3 linked regions of the Homo sapiens genome follow. The protein of the gene in region 3 interacts with the protein of the main gene of each other region in a biochemical or structural test. Each region holds a gene or a part of one and is shown on either strand. Other genes may lie near its edges.

What was found. The genes of interacting proteins can lie anywhere in the genome.
Region 1: the proteins of EVL (region 3) and SPTAN1 form a complex in vitro, tested with the Homo sapiens proteins (one study listed by IntAct).
Region 2: the proteins of EVL (region 3) and PRPF40A form a complex in vitro, tested with the Homo sapiens proteins (one study listed by BioGRID).

What each region holds. Positions count from the first base shown.
Region 1 is NC_000009.12:128,604,578-128,611,603, forward strand, and holds part of SPTAN1 (spectrin alpha chain, non-erythrocytic 1), read left to right. Parts: intron 1-456; coding exon 457-601; intron 602-718; coding exon 719-900; intron 901-3,026; coding exon 3,027-3,126; intron 3,127-3,274; coding exon 3,275-3,472; intron 3,473-3,552; coding exon 3,553-3,699; intron 3,700-4,296; coding exon 4,297-4,400; intron 4,401-4,544; coding exon 4,545-4,707; intron 4,708-5,073; coding exon 5,074-5,088; intron 5,089-7,026. UniProt on the Homo sapiens protein: Fodrin, which seems to be involved in secretion, interacts with calmodulin in a calcium-dependent manner and is thus candidate for the calcium-dependent movement of the cytoskeleton at the membrane.
Region 2 is NC_000002.12:152,707,445-152,714,470, forward strand, and holds part of PRPF40A (pre-mRNA-processing factor 40 homolog A), read right to left. Parts: intron 4,924-7,026; exon of another isoform or gene 4,860-4,923; intron 1-4,859.
Region 3 is NC_000014.9:100,068,406-100,075,431, reverse strand, and holds part of EVL (ena/VASP-like protein), read right to left. Parts: intron 1-7,026. UniProt on the Homo sapiens protein: Ena/VASP proteins are actin-associated proteins involved in a range of processes dependent on cytoskeleton remodeling and cell polarity such as axon guidance and lamellipodial and filopodial dynamics in migrating cells.

The DNA of each region.
Region 1 (7,026 bases), on a different chromosome or scaffold from region 3:
TATTTGGCTTTTTAGAGTTATTGGTGGTAGCCACAGACAAATATACAAATGTCAGCTAAATAAATTTTTTTAGGCTGGGCGTGGTGGCTCATGCCTGTAATCCCAGCACTTTGGGAGGCCAAGGCAGGCAGATCACCTGAGGTCAGGAGTTCAAGACCAGCCTGGCCAACATGGGGAAACCCACCTCTACTAAAAATAAAAAAATTAGCTGGGCATGGTGGTGGGCGCCTGTAATCCTAGCTACTTGGGAGGTTGAGGCAGGAGAATCACTTGAACCCGGTGGGGGCGGAGGTTGCAGTGAGCTGAGATTGTGCATTGTGCTCCAGCCTGGGTGACAAGAATGAAACTCCATCTCAGTAAATAAATAAATAAATAAATAAATAAATTTTTTTTAGTGTCCTGTAATCAAGGCAGTTGTACTTGGCATTTCTTAACCTGAATGTGTCTCGCCTTTAGAGATGCTGATGAAACCAAAGAATGGATTGAAGAGAAGAATCAAGCTCTAAACACAGACAATTATGGACATGATCTCGCCAGTGTCCAGGCCCTGCAACGCAAGCATGAGGGCTTCGAGAGGGACCTTGCGGCTCTCGGTGACAAGGTGAGAGGACCCAAAGTCATCTTCTGTCTGGCATTTTTGCCCCAGAAAGAGCAGAGTCTTCTGTTCTGCAGAGCATACCCCCTTACTGCAAGCTCATTCACCACTTTCTTCCCATAGGTAAACTCCCTTGGTGAAACAGCAGAGCGCCTGATCCAGTCCCATCCCGAGTCAGCAGAAGACCTGCAGGAAAAGTGCACAGAGTTAAACCAGGCCTGGAGCAGCCTGGGGAAACGTGCAGATCAGCGCAAGGCAAAGTTGGGTGACTCCCACGACCTGCAGCGCTTCCTTAGCGATTTCCGGTACGGAGCCATGTTCACTCAGACTTCTGGAACATAGAGCCTTCTTTGTAGGGGTCATTTTTATTGTGAAAATAGTACATGCTCAGCAGGGTACAATGGCTCACACCTATAATCCAAGCACTTTGGGGGGCCAAGGCAAGCGAATTGCTTGAACTCAGGAGCCGGAGACCAGCCTGGGCTACATGGCGAAACCCTATTTCTATTATAAAATTTTAATTTAAAAATCAAAAACGGCCAGGCACAGTGGCTCACGTCTATAACCCCAGCACTTTGGTAGGCCAAGGCGGGCAGATCACCTGAGGTCAAGAGTTCAAGACCAGCCTGGCCAACATGGCGAAATGCCGTCTCTACCAAAAGTACAAAAATTAGCCAGGTGTGGTGGCAGGCATCTGTAATCCCAGCTACTCAGGAGGCTGAGGCAGGAGAATCGCTTGAACCTGGGAGGCGGAGGTTGCAGTGAGCCAAGATCGTGCCACTGCACTCCAGCCCGGGCAACAAGAGTGAAACTCCATCTCAAAAAAAAAAAAAAATTAAAAACAGAAAAAAGTAGTACATAATCAATGTAAAATAGTCAAACTACTGAATGCCATATTGTTAAAAATAAGTCTCTGCAGCCGGGCACGGTGGCTCACGCCTGTAATCCCAGCACTTTGGGAAGTCAAAGCAGGTGGATCACGAGGTCAGGAATTCAGGACCAGCCTGGCCAATATGGTGAAACCCCATCTCTACTAAAAATACAAACCAGCCGGGCGTGGTGGCACACTGGCACACACCTGTAATTCCAGCTACTCGGGAGGCTGAGGCAGGAGAATCATTTGAACCTGGAGGCGGAGGTTGCAGTGAGCCGAGATCGCACCACCGTACTCTAGCCTGGGCGATGGAGCAAGACTCTGCCTCAAAAAAAAAAAAAAAAAACAAGTCTCTACTTTCCTATCCAAGTATGGGCATACTCCCTCTCATCTCCTTGCCATATGACATTATATTTTTCCCTAGACATATATATATATATATTTTTTTTTTGGGGGGGGAAGCGTTTCGCTTTTGTGCCCAGGCTGGAGTGCAGTGGTGCGATCTCAGCTCACCGCAACCTCCGCCTCCTGGGTTCAAGCGATTCTCCTGCCTCAGCCTCCCAAGTAGCTGGGATCACAGGCATGCACCACCAAGCCCGGCTAATTTTGTATTTTTTTTAGTAGAGGCGGGGTTTCTCCATGTTGGTCAGGCTGGTCTCGAACTCCTGACCTCAGGTGATCCACCCACCTCGGCCTCCCAAAGTGCTGGGATTACAGGCGTGAGCCACTGCGCCTGGTTGTCTTTTTCTTCTTTTTATTGAGGTAAAAGCCACGTAACATACAATTAACTACTTTAAAATGTGCAATCCAATGACATTTAATGTATTCACGGTGTTGTGCAGCCACCCCTCTCTAGTTTTGGAACATTTTCATTGCCCTAGAATAACATTCCTTAACTAATCACCCCCTCTTCTCTCTTCCCCACCCACTAGGAATCCTTTATCTGCTTTCTATGTCTATGGATTTGCCTCTTCTGGACATGTCATATAAAAGGAATCATACCATATCTGACCTTACACACTCAGTTTTGTGCCCTTGTGGTTGTACAGCTGTGAGAAACTGGATCAAATGTATGCCCAGGCCTAGGGCTTCAAGGGTTAATCCTAAAGAAAGGCTTTTTCTTTTTTTTCTTTTTTTTTTAGAGACAGGGTTGCACCACATTGCCCAAACTGATCTTGAATTCCTGAGCTCAAGCGATCCTCCTGCCTCAGCCTCCCAAAGTGCTGGGATTACAGGCATGAGCCACCACGCCTGGCCAACAAAAGCTTTTTCATTTGAAGCTATCAAAGACTTAATTGTAGCTAGAACTTGTTATTCTGGAGGGTGAAAAGATCTTAATTATAAGCCTACTGACTTTTCCTCTGAGAAATTCGGACTTTTAAAAAAATAACAAGAAGTTTTTTAACACTTTGCCCAAAGACCTAGCCTCATTCAGTAGATCAGATTAACCCAAGATAACTTTCTGAGGCAAGAATTATGTCATTCTCTGTTTTCCTGGGCAGAAGATCTCCTTACCAGGTAATATAATAGCTATTTTTCTGGGGTGCTGGTTTCCAGGGACCTCATGTCTTGGATCAATGGAATACGGGGGTTGGTGTCCTCAGATGAGCTAGCCAAGGATGTCACCGGAGCTGAGGCATTGCTGGAGCGACACCAGGTGGGTGGACCTGCCTGCTGAGTAGCAAAGACGTGGCTGCTCTGCAGGGCCCTAGAGGCCTCATTCCCACCCTTTGTGGTGAGTCGGTGGTTGACGTCAGAGTGGGCATCTGCTGCCAGTTACCTAATCCCTTCCCTCCTTTTGGCAGGAACACCGGACAGAAATCGATGCCAGGGCTGGCACTTTCCAGGCATTTGAGCAGTTTGGACAGCAGCTGTTGGCTCACGGACACTATGCCAGCCCTGAGATCAAGCAGAAACTTGATATTCTTGACCAGGAGCGTGCAGACCTGGAGAAGGCCTGGGTTCAGCGCAGGATGATGCTGGATCAGTGCCTTGAACTGCAGGTGTGTGTGCTCCTGGTTTCTGACCAAGTGTTTCCTTGCTGAAGGGCCTCATTTTCTCACCTGCCTCTTGCCCTCTTTAGCTGTTCCATCGGGACTGTGAGCAAGCTGAGAACTGGATGGCTGCCCGGGAGGCCTTCTTGAATACCGAAGACAAAGGAGACTCACTGGACAGCGTAGAGGCTCTGATCAAAAAACATGAAGACTTTGACAAAGCGATTAACGTCCAGGTGAGGCCTCTGGACCATGGAGTTGGAGTCTGGATTTTTCCTGATTGACATCTGTTTCTTGGCTTATATAGTCACTGTTATATCTCCAAGGAATACCTGCGTTGTCTAAGAAAAATATGTACATAAATAATCTTTAAAACTTTATAGATTCTGGTATTTCTGAGATTTTAATAATGGGGGTGCCACAGGAAAAAAAAATATTATCAAAGGGATGGAAAACAAATGTGTGGGTAGGTAAGGGAATAATGAACAAACAACAAGGAAGATGTAAAACTGTTTGATTTATACGTCACTTTGCTGTAAATCTGACAGCATTTTCCTATTATCAGGCTTAATTTTGTTCTGTTCTGATATTCTAACACCTGCCCCACCTGAGTGACCTGGAGACTTCTTGAGTTAAACTCTACTCTAGTAATGAATGAAATCAAGCTTTCTTTTGGCATTTTACACTCTTGCTTCTAAAGTGTCAGTGTATTCTGATCCTGCCACCAGCTAGTTCTCAGTCACCCAAAATAACTATCCTTTTCTCAAGACTGGCAGTCCAGGCAGGGCCCAGCCACAGGCCCACCTTGATCTCATGCCTTTGTTTTCTGACAGGAAGAGAAGATTGCTGCTCTGCAGGCCTTTGCCGACCAGCTCATCGCTGCCGGCCATTATGCCAAGGGAGACATTTCTAGCCGGCGCAATGAGGTCTTGGACAGGTGGGTGTCCTGTGGCACTGACATAGTCACCAGCCCTGAGAGGATGCATCCCCTCATACGAAGGCCCAGGCCTGTTCTGTCTCCCCACTTCCTTCTCCACGGTAAGATATGCTCATGTTGGATCTCATGGTTTCACTCTTTCAGGTGGCGACGTCTGAAAGCCCAGATGATTGAGAAAAGGTCAAAGCTAGGAGAATCTCAAACCCTCCAACAGTTCAGCCGGGATGTGGATGAGATTGAGGCTTGGATCAGTGAAAAATTGCAAACAGCGAGTGATGAGTCGTACAAGGATCCCACCAACATCCAGGTAAGCTGAAGTGACTGGGTGTTGGTCTTGATGTAGCCTTATGTTATTGAGTAGATTTTGTTAAATAAAGCATTTATAAAACAATCTCCTTGCACCCATGGGAAGTCAGTGAGAAATATTTCAGTAAGCCCAGCCAGTGGGAAAGCCCTAGTCAAGTTTCAGAGCCATTTAAAAGTTGCCTTCCTCATTTGTCTCCATTAAAACTATTTCTGCTGTAATAAAAGTCTATAGAATCCCCCTTCTATTACTGTTCCCAAATGCTGAGCTTCCTGGGGGAAGTATGACAAAATGAGTTTCTATTTAATAGCTGATATGTGTGTCCACATCAGTGTACTGAACTCTTGTTCTTTTAATCTGTTTTTGTAGCTTTCCAAGCTGCTGGTAAGTTTTTAATTTTTTTAAGAGTTGTAGTTAAATGAGCTCCAGTATTTGTGTTACTCTGCGTAGATTATTGTTATTATTGTGGTCACACGGTTTGCTGGTGTCTCTTCATCCATCCTTTTCATTTCTAATCATCCATTACACTCCATTCAAGTGTCCCTGTGGGATGTGGCTTTTTCTGTTGTAATTAGCCTGCAACGCCTTACTCCCCCTTCTCTCCCCCAGTTTATCACTTAGGCAAATTCTGTACAGTGTTTGATTTGCGGGGCAGTAATTGACCATTTTCTTTCAAGGAGTGCTTCCTTTTGAAGATGGAACATCAGCTTCAGCTTTTTCTGTGTAGACATTGGCTCAGACTTGCTATGAGCTCATGGTGTTCGGTGGCCTGGGTTGGGGAGGCCAGTCTGGTGTGAGGGTTTTAATGCATACCCACTCTGGCATCCAGAGGTGCCAGTCAGGAGAGGAACAGCTAGAGAACTGTAGAGAGACGGATGGTCTATTAATACCTCCAAATCTTCAAGGAACACAAATGAGAAGTTAAGATAAAAGCAGACATCACTCAACAGGTAGTGAAAGGAGACTTCAGTCAACATGTAGCTCAAAGTTACTTAAGCGGGTGGAAGAAATGAAGATAGAGAAGAGAGTAAATGGGATTTGAACCAAAGGGTGATCAGAACAAGGAACAGAAGAAGAGGGTAATGGGACTTTTGTCAGGATATCTGAGTGTTTGAGACCCTTTTCCTTCTTGGCTTTGGGATCAGGCGGTGGGAGAACGTAACAAGGACATTTCATGTTAGTGCTGAATTGAGCCAGATGGCTCCATCCTTTGACAGTTGCTGCCTCTGAAATGAAACATTTGATGCAGAATTCCCCAACACTACTGCCTTTTAGTTGTTTTTTTTTTGCCCCCCAAATAACACTCCCCTGAGACCCTGCATTTCTTACCCAGCCAATTGTTTTTCCCAGAATTGTGGCATAGCTGCTATGTCCTTGCAATTGTCTCTTGTAGCATTTCAGTACCTTCTGTTTCTTTATGGATTCATAAAAACCATATCAGGCGCCCAGGATCAGGAGCCCATCCTTCTCCTAGCCCTTTCATTTCCCAGTAAAATAAATTCCTTCCTGCAGTCAAGCCTGGGTTCTGACAGTATCCCAGTGTTTTGATTAATGACAGCTACCTAAAGATAAATCAACAAAGCCAATGTCTGTAGTAGCTGTAGATTTCTCCTCTGTCAACAGAGGGAAAAGACTGACCATCAAATATTATTTTGCTGGTTATTACAATTTATGTTATGAATTTTGCTTAATGGTGATTTCTGCTTTAGATAATGAAATGTCCATATGTATCTCATTCATTACAGCCTGTCTCCAATAAGGAGAAAGCCATGGATGGAAATTGATGTACAAGCAGATTCAAAACTGAAGTTGGCCATTGCCATCTTCTGGAAAGTGTTAGGAAGTGTGTAATTCTAGGGCTTCACTCCCAAATAGCTAGCATAGCTACTGCAAGAATTGATTTTTTGGCCAGGCTTGGTGGCTCATGCTTGTAATCCCAGAACTTTGGGAGGCCAATGTGGCTCGATTGCTTGAGCTCGGGAGTTCAAGACCAGCCTGGGCAACATGGCGAAACCCCATCTCTACAAAAAATAGAAAAATTAGCTGGGTGTGATGTCATGCACCCATGGTCCCAGCTATTCGGGAGGCTGAGGTAGGAGGATTGCTTGAGCCGAAGAGGTTGAGGCTGCAGTGAGCTGAGATTACGCCACTGCACTCCAGCCTGGGCAACTGAGCAAGACCCTGTCTCAAAAAAAAGGACTTCCAGTTCATCTACTCCTGAGCTAGTACATTTCCTTCCTCCTTTGCTAACTCCCCAAGAGATGAACCCTAAAATATTTCATACAAACTCCAATTGCCTTCTGTTAAAAACGTTGGCATTTA
Region 2 (7,026 bases), on a different chromosome or scaffold from region 3:
AGCTAAGGAAAATTTAACTCTCTTTCATCTATTCTATTACTCCTTCTTCTTTCCTCTCTATTGCTGATCACCTCATTATTAATGTAACCGAGTCAATTTCGCCTCAAACTATTATATTTGATGCTTGCCTTGTTATACCCTGTGGAGACTTGACACGTCGAAGCAGCTCTCCACTCCAAAAAAGTACCTCTGTCCTTCCTGGCTCTGCTCAGACTGGATATTAGTGAATCGGGATCATTTAGTCTGGAAAGGTTTCAATAAAGACCCCAATGTCAACTGGGAGTATTGCCCCCCACACCCCGCCAAGACAGAGCTTTTATGCTGCAGTTGGTCCAATGTTCTGTAGACCAATAAAGAGCACAGATGGACTGCCCCAACCAGTAGTTGTAAACGTTCTGTAGACCACTAAAGAGCACGGATAAACTGCCCCAACCAGTAGCTGTAATTTCCTAAAGCCATACATTCACTTTACTAAAGAAACAGCTTCCCCTAGCTGTGAGCTAAACCAGTACTGTCCAATACAGGTTATTATCTCAAACCCTCCAAGTTCTTCCCCTTCTATAAGCCGGTTCCCTTCTTTAAGCCAGTTTTATGGCATGGGGGCTGAGGTTTCAGGAACAGAACCTATTGGATCCTTTGAAATATGCTGCATTGATCCCCTACTGCCTACACTTTCCCCTAAGCCTTCTTCCAAAACCTCTCACAACAAAACTATTGCTCCTCCTCCATCTAATGAAAAGACCAAGGTAGCTATTGTAGAAGTTAAAGACCTAAAACAAACTTTGGCAACTGAGACAGGATATCAAGATGTGAATGCTCTTAAATTTAAAACTCGAGATCAAATAGCTGCAGGATTTGAGTCAATATTTTTGTGAGTGACAACTAATAAAAACGTAGATTGGATAAATTACATTTATTATAATCAGCAGTGGTTTATAATTACACCACGGATGCTGTCAAAGGGTAACAGAACAATTGGGGCCCACTAGCCAGATGGCCTGAGAAAACAGAATGGCCCTAGATATATTAGCCAAAATAGGGGATGTTTGTGTTATGATTAAAATTCACTGTTGTACCTTTATCCCAAACAACACTGACCCCACTGGGAACATAATAAGCGTCTTACAAAGACTTACCGCTTTATCCAATGAACTAACTAAAAATTCTGGAGTCGATAACCCTTTCTCAACATGGCTAGAGAGGTAGTTCAGTAAATGAAAAGGAATCATAGCCTCAATCCTTCTCTTACAGCCATTATAGGTGTGCTCATTCTTACAGGATGCTGTATCATACCCTGTACTCATAGTTTAGTGCAAAGACTTATAAAAACAGCTCTCACCAAAACCTTCCTCAGCTCTCCTCCACCTTATTCAGATAAACTCTTCCTTCTCCTAGACATGCATTGTGTCATAATGGATAGCCTTTCCCTTCCAGCCTAGACAGCTGGGTTCAATTTCAAACATTAGTCAACTGGGTCACTTTAGATTGTGCGGTCCAACCCTAGCCAGTAGGGGAAAGACACAACAGTGGGGACCAGCTGTGTTAAGAATAAGAACCTCTTCCCCTCCCTTGTCCATCTCACGATTGCTCCATCTGCAAGACACACCCTTCTACAGAAGTAAACTGCCTTGCTGAGAAAACTTTTGCCTGAGTGCTATTTTCACTTTGCAACACTGAACATTCACTTCCAACAATCACATCTCTAATAACTGCTAAGTACAACTAACTTGCTTAAAATAAGTGATACATAATGTACAAGTACTTGACCAGACAGCGAAAGAAGGCAAATACAGGTTGAGAGGCCTTTATACAGAATGCTTGACACCAGACTGGGATTTTTTCAGATTTGCAGATATTTGCCTTTTTACCTACTGGTTGAGCATCCCTAATTCAAAAATCTGAAACATTCCAATGAGCATTTATTTCGAGTGTCATGTTGGCACTCAAAGTTTTAGATTTTGGAGCATTTCTGGTTTCCAGATTACAGATACTCAACCTGTATAAAATATTCATAGCCACTAGATTTCCAAATGTACGGAAATACCATAACAACCAAATCAGCAGTTAGAAGACAAAAATGAGTTCAAAATGGCATCTCAGGAATGACCTCCTTGAGAGCAGGGCATACATCACCTGTACACTAGGTACCACACCCAAGATACTTAAATGTGTACTGAATAAAAGAAAAATAAAGGTAAGGAAAAAAATAAGAATGAGACTGATAATTTCTACTTGGAATGTCATCTATTAATTCCTACTTATAAACCTTCACAACATGGACCTATTTCTCTAGGTTAAAAACAGGTTGGGCAAGGCGGCTCATGCCTGTGATCCCAGCACTTTAGGAGGCCAAGGCAGGAGAATCACTTGCGCCTTGGAGTTCGAGACCAGCCTGGCCAACATGGCGATACCCTGACTCTACTAAAAATACAAAAATTACCTAGGCATGTGGCACGCACCTGTGATTCCAGCTACTTGGAGAACCTGGGAGGATGAGGTTGCAGTAAGTGGAGATTGCACCATTGCACTCCAGCCTGGGTGACAGACACTCTGTCTCAAAACAAACAAACAAACAAACCCCAAAATCCCTAGTACACTGCTATGGTGTAGCATATGTACCAAATCTTTTTTTTTTTTTTTGAGACAGTTTTGCTATTGTTGCCTAGGCTGGAGTGCAATAGCGCGATCTCAGCTCACTGAGACCTCCACCTCCCAGGTTCAAGCAATTCTCCTGCCTCAGCCTCCCAAGTAGCTGAGATGACAGGTGTGCGCCACCATGTCCCGCTAATTTTTGTATTTTTAGTAGAGATGGGGTTTCACCATGTTGGTTAGGCTGGTCTCAAACTTCTGACCTGAAGTGATCCATCCACCTCGGGCTCCCAAAGTGCTGAGATTACAGGCATGAGCCACCGTGCCTAGCCTCAAATCTTTACTATCTATTAATACTACTATTAGTCTTATCATGATATTCAACAAGCCTAATTTAAAAATCAAAGGTTAATCTATTGACTTGTTTCCTCTTTTGATCCACTATCTAATGAATACATTCATTGCACTACACAAGCTGTTTCGTTTATGCATATGTGTGTTAACACTAACTTATTTTGATGTTGCCTTTTTCTCCTAAAGAGCAAACTAAAAGAATAAAGGGCCCTAATTCAGCATTTCTCACAAAATGCTAATTTCATACAATGTGCTACACAAAGCAAAACAAATGCTTTATGTGGGAGATTTATGGGGGAGATGGTCAAATAAGACAGAAATACTAAGTAAAAATTGTAAAAGGCTTCTGCAAGACTTCTCATCACTTTAGTAAATATTATGCCTTGTGAATTTCAAAAGGGGAGCAGGGGATGCCGGTCATTCTTCTCAACTGATGTGGTCCTCCTTAGATCTTTCCACACTAAGTTTGTGAATAGATGAGCTCATATTTAAATGAACTGCTATCTAAAGATAATGAAAATAAACGTATTTGTAGTCTCACTATTAACATTTGTCAAAAATCTAACCACATTGAGTCAAGAATTTACAGACATTAGGTCTGAGTTAAGATATTTTTTAAAAGTACTTGCTTGAGTCATCCACATGTACCCAGAAGTTACCCAGATTCAAGAATTATGAGCAGATGACCTAAAAAACAAAAATTCTATCTCTTTTTTGTCACTGGCTAATGCCCAATTCAATGGCATGGATCCTGTAGCTACTCAAAAGGAAGGGTAATTCAGAAGGAACAGCAACAAATAAATTTGTCAAATCAGTCAGGTAAGTCTAAGGTACCAATACACTAAATTTCTCTGCAAGGCCTATATCCTACTTTGTTATTTTTTCCTCTACATTACCTCTACATTACTTATAATACCTTACACAATGTAAATGCTATAAAAGTTATTATACTTTATTTTTAAAAATTTGTATTTTTTTGTTGTTGCTTTTTTAAAGACTATTTTCCATCGCAGTTGCTTGAATCTCTGGATACAGAGGGTCGACTGCAAATGGAAATATTTTAGTTTTATTCTCCAAACAAAAATTATTTATTTCATCTTATTTATCTTCCATTTTTGTCAAATGAAAAAGTAAGAGTAAAGAGGCAGACACTAAAAACAAGAATAAGTAGTAACAACGTAAAGTCACAAGTAACCACTGGAAACAGTCACATTTAACACTGACTGACTTATGGGCTTATACTGCAGGAAAGAATACCTGTGTATTTGTTTCATTCATTCAACAAGTATTTTACTGAGCACCCATGATGTGCCAAGAACTGTGCTCAGCACCTATAGGCTTCTTAAAAAGTACAGAACATAGCCCCTGCCCTCTAAGAGCTTACAATCTATTACTTGTTGGAAAATTAAAGCAAATTAAGAAACCATAAAACAAGTCAATAACTAGGTGCCAAAATAAGTGAAACGGTAAGAGTTATGGGTAGATTACAAATATTTTCTTTAATAATCTGAAGGGGAGGTATATGTTGGCAAAAGTCATTTTTGAGAAACTTTTGGAGAAGGCAGGACTTGAAATAGTACAACATAGGTAAGCAAAGCAAACTTCATGGTGATACTGAGCTGGGGGCAGGAGGGTAAGAAGAACAGCCTAAGTTTGAAGTTGTGAACTAATATAATCACTCAAGACACCGTGAAAAGACCAGCCTAAGTTCAAATTAGGGAGTGTAAAGACATGCAGCCTTGAATCCTGCTTTGACATGTACTATGGGGAGGTTCTTTAAAGTTAAGCTGTGGAATTTAGATACTATGTTATAGGCACTGAAAGTACTGGAGATTCTTGGGCAAGGAGATAACACATTGAAATCTAAAATTTGTGGGGGCAGGGGGGCATCCTTGAAGCAAGAAAACCAACTCAACTCAAAAACTGTTGAATAACCTAGGCATGGGAGAGTGACGACTTGGGCTCATGTGGTAGCAGGAACTGAAATAAAATAAGATCTATTAGAGCCAGCCTTACTCAATATAGGAGCAAGAAAATCAAACTCATTTGTAAAAAGCAATTATTCATTTATCAGTTTACTGACCAAAGACCAAAAAAAAAAAGCACTGAATAAATAGAATTAGGGAGGCATTACTAAAGGAATTTTCTGTTCTTTCCATATCATCCCATAAAATCTGATATCTACTCTTATCAAATGATCTGAACTGAATCATAGGATGTTAGAGCTGAAAGGGACCTTAACTCAATTACTCTACTCTTCTCACTGATAGAGGAAAATAAAGACTCAAATAGGGAGGAAAAAAAAAGAGCCAGCTAGCATGACTCTGGGGCAAAGGCATAATCATCTGTGATAAAGATGGCAGGACCTGCATGTCCTTTGTGTAGAAAACACAAAAGACATGAAAACAGTATTTACTATGGACACTGAGGAAGAAGACAGCCTCACACATAATTTTATTGATAGAAATCTCTACAGAAAATCTTTATTTTTTTGAGATAGGGTCTCACTTTGTCACCCAGGATGGAGTGCAAGGCGTGATCTTGACTCACTGCAGCCTCGACCTCCCAGGTTCAAGCAATCCTTCTGCCTCAGCCCCCTAAGTAGCTGGGACGACAGACGCACACCACCACACCCAGCTTATTTTTAAATAGTTTTTGTAGAGATGGGGTTTCACCATGTTGCCCAGGCTGGTCTCCAACTCCTGAGCTCAAGCGATGCACCCGCCTCAGCCTCCCAATGGGAAATTTTTGAGTACTGCCATCCAGCAGGGAAAATTCTTTATCTTTCTTTACTAACATTTAACCAGTGATCCTCAAAGCATCTTAAATCACATATTATTTAAAGCTTAAACAACCTGTAAGGTCCCTTTCAGCTATAAGATCCTATAACTCTAAAAGTATGACTTTCCTATAAAGTTATATAGAATAAGAGGCAAATTTAATCTACAAGATAGAAAACTGAAATAAACCTGAAAGAATATTAAGCTCAATTTGATAATCATCAAATATTTATTACTACTAAGAGTCAGCCTAAATGCATGAGATGGCACTCTAGGTCATCTCATGAATTAAGAAAAAAAAAATTTGAACACACCACTTCTTTAAGCTAAATAGCTTGATGCATTTGAGAAATTATGAACCCTGGCTTCCGTACATCATTATGCTACCCAGTCTGCATATTATTTTACAAACAAGTTTTACAGTTTCATGTCATATTGGTAACATTCCAAAGACCACAATTATTTGGCAAGTAAGACTGCCACCAATTTTAGTCTTTAGCTAGTCCCAGCATGAGATGTTCATGCAAACCAGTCAACACATGAAGGTTTTTATAACCTTCAGTCCCAAAGTCTAAAGAATTTGTGAACTGACTTTTTTAAATTGCATGGCAGAACCCTCCCAACTGTCACTACTGTGAATGATACAGACAGACATCCTGCTTCTTCTCAATTATCTTCTGACCACTTATTCCTCCTGAGTACTTCCAAGAGTGGCAGAAGAAATAATGCAGGAAAAAGGATCAATTGTCCTATTTATTATCACCTTTAATTTTTAAAGCAATGTTTACAGAGTTTCAAATATGATTTCTGATTTGAGAATTCAAATTATCCATGCTCTCCCAGTCTGTTATAAAGCTAAAACAAGAATTTGTTTTACCAAGATTTGGGACCCATATTTGTTAGTGAAATATTAAGGGGATAAAAGGGAATTATATAATTCTGACAAAAACAGCGGAGATTCTTTTGGGACTTTCAGGGCATAACTCCTACTAAAACATTTATTTATTATACTAACAGGAGCCTTCAGAGGGAGAAGAATTCTAAACATCTAAATAATTAGGTCTACTTAAAGGCACGTGGCATATATTAGCCTAGGAAAAAGTAGAAGAAAACCACACCAAAAAAATCAGTTATTTGAATGGATGTGTACCGAGTAGCAAGTAAACTTACTAGAAAGATGGTCACTGATACAGCTAAAGAGAAAGGGCCATAAAGCAAACTGTGACCAGCTTATGTCAATGAGATACATGAAAGTACTTTTAAAAAATAAAATCTGCATTTTTTTTTTTAACTAGAACTATGA
Region 3 (7,026 bases):
TTACCTTCAACATACAAGCAACAAAAGTGAATCTTAAAAGCTGGGCTGAGAACCATCAGTAAGGAGCCTCCTGGATGGGAGCGGAGCAGCCCACACTGAGGTGCTCACACAGACCTGTCTGGGCACTCCAGTGCAGAGCAGAGCTGGGGTCTACCCACAGAGCCCCAAGACAAGGCCCGGCACACAGGAGGAGACAGGGGCTTTCTCCTTTGCCAAATTCCAGTCTCTCTCTGAAGCACATCACTTGCTAGTTCAGAAGAGCCCCTGCAGCCATGCAGCTTGGCTCTGGTAACATAGGTGACATCTTCACCTGACTTCACACAATGCTCAAACCACCATCACGAGGTCATTATCACATTTATTCCCACTTCTCATTGTGTGGCTCCCCCAAGTCACACAGGGAGTCAAGTCAGAGACACTGCTGGACAGGACCCTGCCTCCTGCCATCTGGAGGCCTCTCCTTCCAGCTCTCGGAGAACTCTCTCACACTATGAACTCCCCTCTGCCCACAGGCAGCCCCACCCTGTCTCCCCTCAGCCTGCCCCAGCCTCGCCATTCTGCTCTTGCCACAGACTTCTTGCCCTCCTTCTTGCCCTCCTCGCCTCCTGTGTGAAACTTCTCCCTTGGCTGCCATGACACCGCATGGCTTGGCTCTTCTCTGGACTGCCCCTTTTCTGACCACTGTCTTTCCCAAGGTGGAGAGGGGCAGACAGAGAGAGAGTACTTTAGAGAAAGTCTGGCTGGCTGGTGCCCACCAGGAAGCAGTGCTGTGCTGGGAAGCAAGGCTGGGTACAGAGAGTTAAGGCCAGCCCTCACCATGGAGTCAGCGCGGGGAAGTGAGAACACTGTGGACAACAGCTCCAGCTCTGCCCCAGGTCTGGCTCTATTGTTTGCCAGCAACAAGACTTCAGGGAGGTAAGTTTACAGCTCTGTAAAACAAGTAGAATCATCTTTTTGCATTTTCTTTTACCTTTGCTGGAGATCAAATAAGGCTGATGAAATAAACAGGAGAGCAGTTTACTAAACATGATTAGCACCCAGCAGATACTATCTTGAAAAAGGACAATGTTGGCTGGAATGAACAGCAAATCCATATGAGGCAAGACTTAGGGTGGAATCTACATGAAACTGCCTTCCGTGTCCACATGGAGAGCTGTCATTATCACCTACTACTCTTTTAACTTCTAACGAGAAAAACAAGGTGGCAGGTTCCTCACTGTGGCCTGGAGAATTGCCTCAGGCCTCACCAAGTGGGAGCAGGCTGTCGGGTCCTGTCTGTGGAATGGCCCAGATCAACTGTGGAGGTCACTGAGGGCCCGCTCCTGAGCCCTGGCTGTTGGGAAATCAGTTTCCGGGCCCTGATTTGCTCCTGTGCTTTCCTCTAGCCTCTACTCACACTGCTCCCCGACCCCCCGCCCCCACCGCCCCCGGGGGTGACTCCCTGAACCCACTGAAGAGAATGCTAATGCACACCCTCGGGCCCCTGCCGCTCCCCTCAGCTGCTTAGCTTTTCTGCAGAACACTTACCATACTTGCCACTGAACTGAGGGGCAAGTGCCTCCATGAGGCAGGTTGTTTGGTTTGGTTTTTAAAGTAGTGTTCATCTCGGTAGCTCTAGTAACTGGGCCCTAGTGGTTTCTCAACAAATATCTTTGAATAACTGCTGGCTTTTATGTTTGCTGAGTTTTGCCAGGTATTGTATTTCTCAGCCTCCACGGATTTTTGTGGTGGGGGTGGCATGACTTACTTGAGATCTGGCCACCTCTGCTTTCTCTTTCTTTCTTCCTGCATTTATTTGAAAAATAAAACAAGGGCCGGGCACAGTGGCTCACACCTGTAATCCCAGCACTTTGGGAGGCCAAGGTGGGAGGACAGCTTGAGCCCAGGAGTTCGAGACCAGCCTGGGCAACACAGATCCTGTCTCTACACAAAATAAAAAAGTGTTAGCCACGCATGGTGGTGGGTGCCTGTAGCCCCAGCTGCTCAGAAGCCTGAGGTGGAAGGATCCCTTGAGCTGAGGAGGTTAAGGTTGCAGTGAACCGTGTTTGCACCACTGCACTCCATCCTGGGTGACAGAGCAAGACCCTGTCTCCCCAAAAAAAAAAAAAAAAGAAAAAGGAAAAAGTGCTGTACGTGCAAAGTGTCACAAGAGGAGGGCATTTAGTTCTGCCCAGGGGACCCAAGGGATGTTGTCATGAAGGGGAAGCAAGACTTTTCAAGAGGAAACAAAGAACCATTTCAAGCAGAGGGAAGAGTGTCAGCAAAGGCAGAGTGGTGGGTGGGGGGACCTCAGTCATCACCCTGGGGCCTCATCACTTCTCAACACCTACCCAGGTGAATGAGGAAGCACACCCACGTTGCCATGTCCCAATTCAGTGACCGAGAAACAGAGACGCTTGAAATCACAGCCGCATCAGAACTGAAAAACATTCTGCAGTGATTTTCTTAGGAAACACGCCTGGAGAGGGAAGTAACCTGCCCAACGCCCATGGCTGATCCGCGGCAGAGCCTGGACTAGACAGCAACCTGACGCTCCGCCGTGCAGTAAGGCTCTTCTGCTCCACCTGGCGACGCAGCAAAACCCAGCTCCAACTTTTACTTCCTGCTTTGAAGCTGTTTTTCACTCCAACTTTTTAATCTGAAAAATTTCAAACCTACAGGAACATGTAAGGGACACTCTTTTACCTTTCACTAAACCTGCCCATGGTTAACATTTGCCACATGTGAGTTATCTCTGTCTTTCCCCTGAGCCATTTGAAAGTCAGCTGCAGATACCATGATACTTCAGTCCTAGGGACCTGAGCATACATTTCTTTAATATAAGGATATTCTAATATATAACTTAAATACCATTGTTACAACAAAGAAAATCAACACTTTACTAAAAATCTAATACAGAGTCCATACTAAAACTTACCCATGTAATCCCAGCACTTTGGGAGGCCAAAGCAGGTGGATCACCTGAGATCAGGAGTTCGAGATCAGCCTGGCCAACATAGTGAAACCCCATCTCTACTAAAAATACAAAAATTAGCCAGGTGTAGTGGCGCATGCCTGTAGTCCCAGCTACTCGGGAGGCTGAGGCAGGAGAACTGCTTGAACCCAGGAGGCACAGGGAGGTGTAGGATGCACTGAGCGGAGATAGCTCCAATGCACTCCAGCCTGAGCGACAGAGGGAGACTCCGATGCAACAACAACAAAAAAGTTACCCAATTTTTACAAAATGTTTCTGATTTTTTGGGATGTAGGATCTGCTCATGGATTACATTTGATCGAGCCGTCTGCTTACTCCCTTTCAAGCTAAGCTAGGATGTGAAACTATTTAAAAATTTTTCATTGATAAAGATGTTGTGTGTGTGAAGAATTCAGGCCAACTGAATGTAGACTGTAGGTTGGTTAAGAGGTGACTGCCAGATCTCCAATGGAAAGCTATATTTTCCCCTTAGTAATTATTAAATCATTTATAGGGTGCCATTTTTTTTTCTTAATGGGCACAGGTGTGAAACAGGTTTCATGCTATGAAGTAGACTTAAAATGTTTATTGTGAAGTACTTCAGGCCTGTGAGAAGTAGGTTCCCACGATCCCACCACACAGTCTAGGAAATCTGACAGCAAGTCATAAAGCTGTTTAGTTCAAGTGACGCCTGCATCCTCCTCCCAGACCCAGAGCCCCTCCTCTCTACCAGGGGGAACCGCCACCTTGCAGGTGGTATTTTCAATTCCATGCTTGCTGTCTGTAGTGCAGCCATACAACTGACTATTTTACACACATAGTTCTCAAACTTTTTTGGTCAAGAGAACCCCTTTACACTCAATTATTGAGGATGCCAAAAAGCTTCTGTTTTATGTAGGTTAAGTCTATCCATATTCACCTTATTTGAAATTAAAACTAATAATTTTTTAAAACACAAGAATATACAAGCAGACATTTCATTAGCTGCCACAGTGATGATGTCAAAACATCACATAGCTCTGGAAAATTCCACCATGAATTCATGAGACAAGAGCTGAAATGGCAAATGATGTCTTAGTAATATTATAAATACAGTTCTGATCTACAGACTCCTAGGAGGGTCAATCTCTGGAGTACATTTTGAGAACTGCTGCATTACAGCAATGAAAGACAATGAATTAGCTCTCTGCATATTAACATGGGAAACCCAAATGGTGACTGAGCCCCATTTTTGAGAGTGTTAGAATTAAAGAAAGGCTTTGGGTAAATAAAGTCTACATTCAGTGTTAAACCCTGACACCTTCTTTTCTATCCAAATTGGTTGCCCACATCATGGGCAATCAAGACGTTTGCCTTTTCTCCTTGGATGTCACCCTCTCAGATGCCTGGACAGCTGGTCTCCATTACTCTGTGAAGTCTGGTGCAATCTGGAAAAACACTCCAACCAACTGTTGGGGGAGTCTGACATTCCTAGACTGACCCTGTCTCATATGCATCTCCCATACTCTTTCAAGGCCACCGGCGTAGCCCTTTCTTTGGGGAGCCATCTGACAGCCACGTGGACGTTAAGGCTACTCAAACCTCAAAAACATTTATATATTTTGCTCTGTGTCTTCATCTCAAAATTTGTGTCCCCAGAGTCTGTGACTCTGATCACTTGTGAAGTGGAACAGGTTTTAGCACAGCCTTGGGACAACTGTAGAGGCCTGGCTTGGGCCAAGGATTGGGACAGTATGTTCAGCTCCAAGGATGAATCAACAGCCTGGGAATGAAGACCCCGGCTCTGCCCTTACAAACACCCCTGAAGACACAAGTAGCCACTTGGACTCTGTGCTATTTACTAGGCACAGGGACAAACATGAATGCATAACACAAGCGTCCTGCTCTGAAAGAGCTCTAGGCTGGTAGGAGAGATCCTGAGCCGACAGAGCATCGACAAGAGATACGCACGCAGGCACGGGGTGCTACAGGACAGACGAGGTCTCTTTTGTCTCTTGTGGTATTAACAGCACAGAATGACGGAGACTGCAAAATAGAGATCAGGAGGGCCTCGATTCTACCCTTGACTCTGCAAATTGGGACAAGTTTAGCTTTGAGAAGTTAAAGCTGAGAGGGCAGATTTTGATCCTCTCAGAGATCAAAAGCTCCGTCAAGTGACAACAATGTGACCTGGAATACGATACTTTGTAGGCCCTTGTTTTCTTTTCTTTTTGAGGTAGGGTCTTGCTCTGTCACCAGGGTGGAGTGCAGTAGTGTGATCACAGCTCACTGCAGGCTTGAACTGCTGGGCTCAAGCAATCCTCCCACCTCAGCCTCCTGAGAAGTTGGGACTATAGGCTTCAGGCATGCACTATCACATCTGGCTAATTTTCATTTTTTAATTTTATTTTCTTTCTTTCTTTTTTTTTTTTTTTTTAAGAGAGGAGGTCTTACTATGATGCCTAGGCTGGTCTTGAACTCCTCAGCTCAGGTGATCTACCTGCGTTGGCCTCTCAAAGTGTTGGGATTACAGGAGTGAGCCACCATACCCGGCCAACCCTTGTTTTCTTATCTGTAAAGTGGCAATAGTGATACCAGACCTCAAAGGATGAGAATTAAATAGTATGTATATCATGTAACTAGCGTAATGGTTGGTGTATAACACTGAGAAAAGCTGAGCTGTTGTTATTTTCCTCCTCTGTGGGTTCAGTTACCAAAGCAAAGCCATTGGACTACACTAGTTCTCATCCATTTTCTGCCCCAGCCCACCTGAGTATCGTAACATTCTCATGAGAATAACCTAGAATCTCCAGAGGAATGTTTCTCAACTAGAGGCACATGGGATTCTTTGAGACAGAGGAAGGCAGAGAAGCTTCAGAAGCTCTCCAAATGATTTGGCTACAGGTCTCTAGGGAAGTGCGGGTTCCCATGGAGAGTGAACGGACTACGTGATCTCTGAGGGCTTGTTCAATTGCCTCTGGGACTCTCTGACTTGCCCGTGAGGACTGGAAATACCTGTGAGAAAGGAAACACCAGGTGTTCCTGGAGACTCCTCCAAACCCTCACACAAAGGCGTACAATTAGGTGCGAAGGATTGTAAGCTGAACCCCGGCTGTGCGAGACTTCTTATATCTTTACAGCTTCAAGATGTGCAGCACAGTGGAATAAACAGTAATGACTGTGCCCAAGCAGCCACAGCTCCTTCACTACCTGACAGCAAGTGAAATGTCTGTTTTTCTGGTCTCTTCTCTAACATGCCACACCAGGAAGCTCCACTGAGTAGCAACTTTGGTAGCACAGGAATCTTTAGGACCATATATCAAAGTAGTTAATTAAATCCAGCAGTTCAATAAATGTGTATTGCCAGGCAATGTTTTAGGCACTGGGGATACACCACTGAACAAAATAGGCGAAAATCCCTGCCTTCTGGGAGTTTACATTCTTGAGGGGTAAAGACAGTATACAGTAGAACAAGTAAGTTCTATAATACGTTAGAAGATAGTACGTGCTTCGGAAAAACCCACAGCCTACCAAAGACAACAGAGAGACCAGGGAAGGAAACGAAATTAACTGGCTGGCCCCAAAAGTGGCAGACATATCACACATCCATATCACGTTTCCTGCTGCTGCACCGCGACCTCAGCTACTTCCTGCTCAGGTCAGCCTTGTTCAACCCACATTTCCTGGGAACCTGTGCTGCTAGGCCCACACCTCTACAGATTCTTCCAGCTAGCACCCCAGCTGCCCCAGCGTGGTGAAAGGAATCACCACCCACCTAAGCCATGTCTGACTCATGTTTCCCCCACGCCCATGTGTGATCCACCAGATAGTCCTGGAGGCTACAGCACCACGGCACTTCCTGAATCTGGTGACTTCTCACCGCCTACCCTGACTGCTCCACTGCTGGCCCAAACCACCCTCACCTCTTACCTGGATGACTGCGGTAGCCTCCCAAGAGGTCATCCTGCCTCCATTCTTGCCACACTGCCAGCCATTATCCACACAGGGCCCAGAGTGATTTTCTTAAGCTTCTATGAGATGTCTTTCCCTTTGCTTCAAACCCTCCCTCCAAAGGCTTCCCCTAACTAAATTCT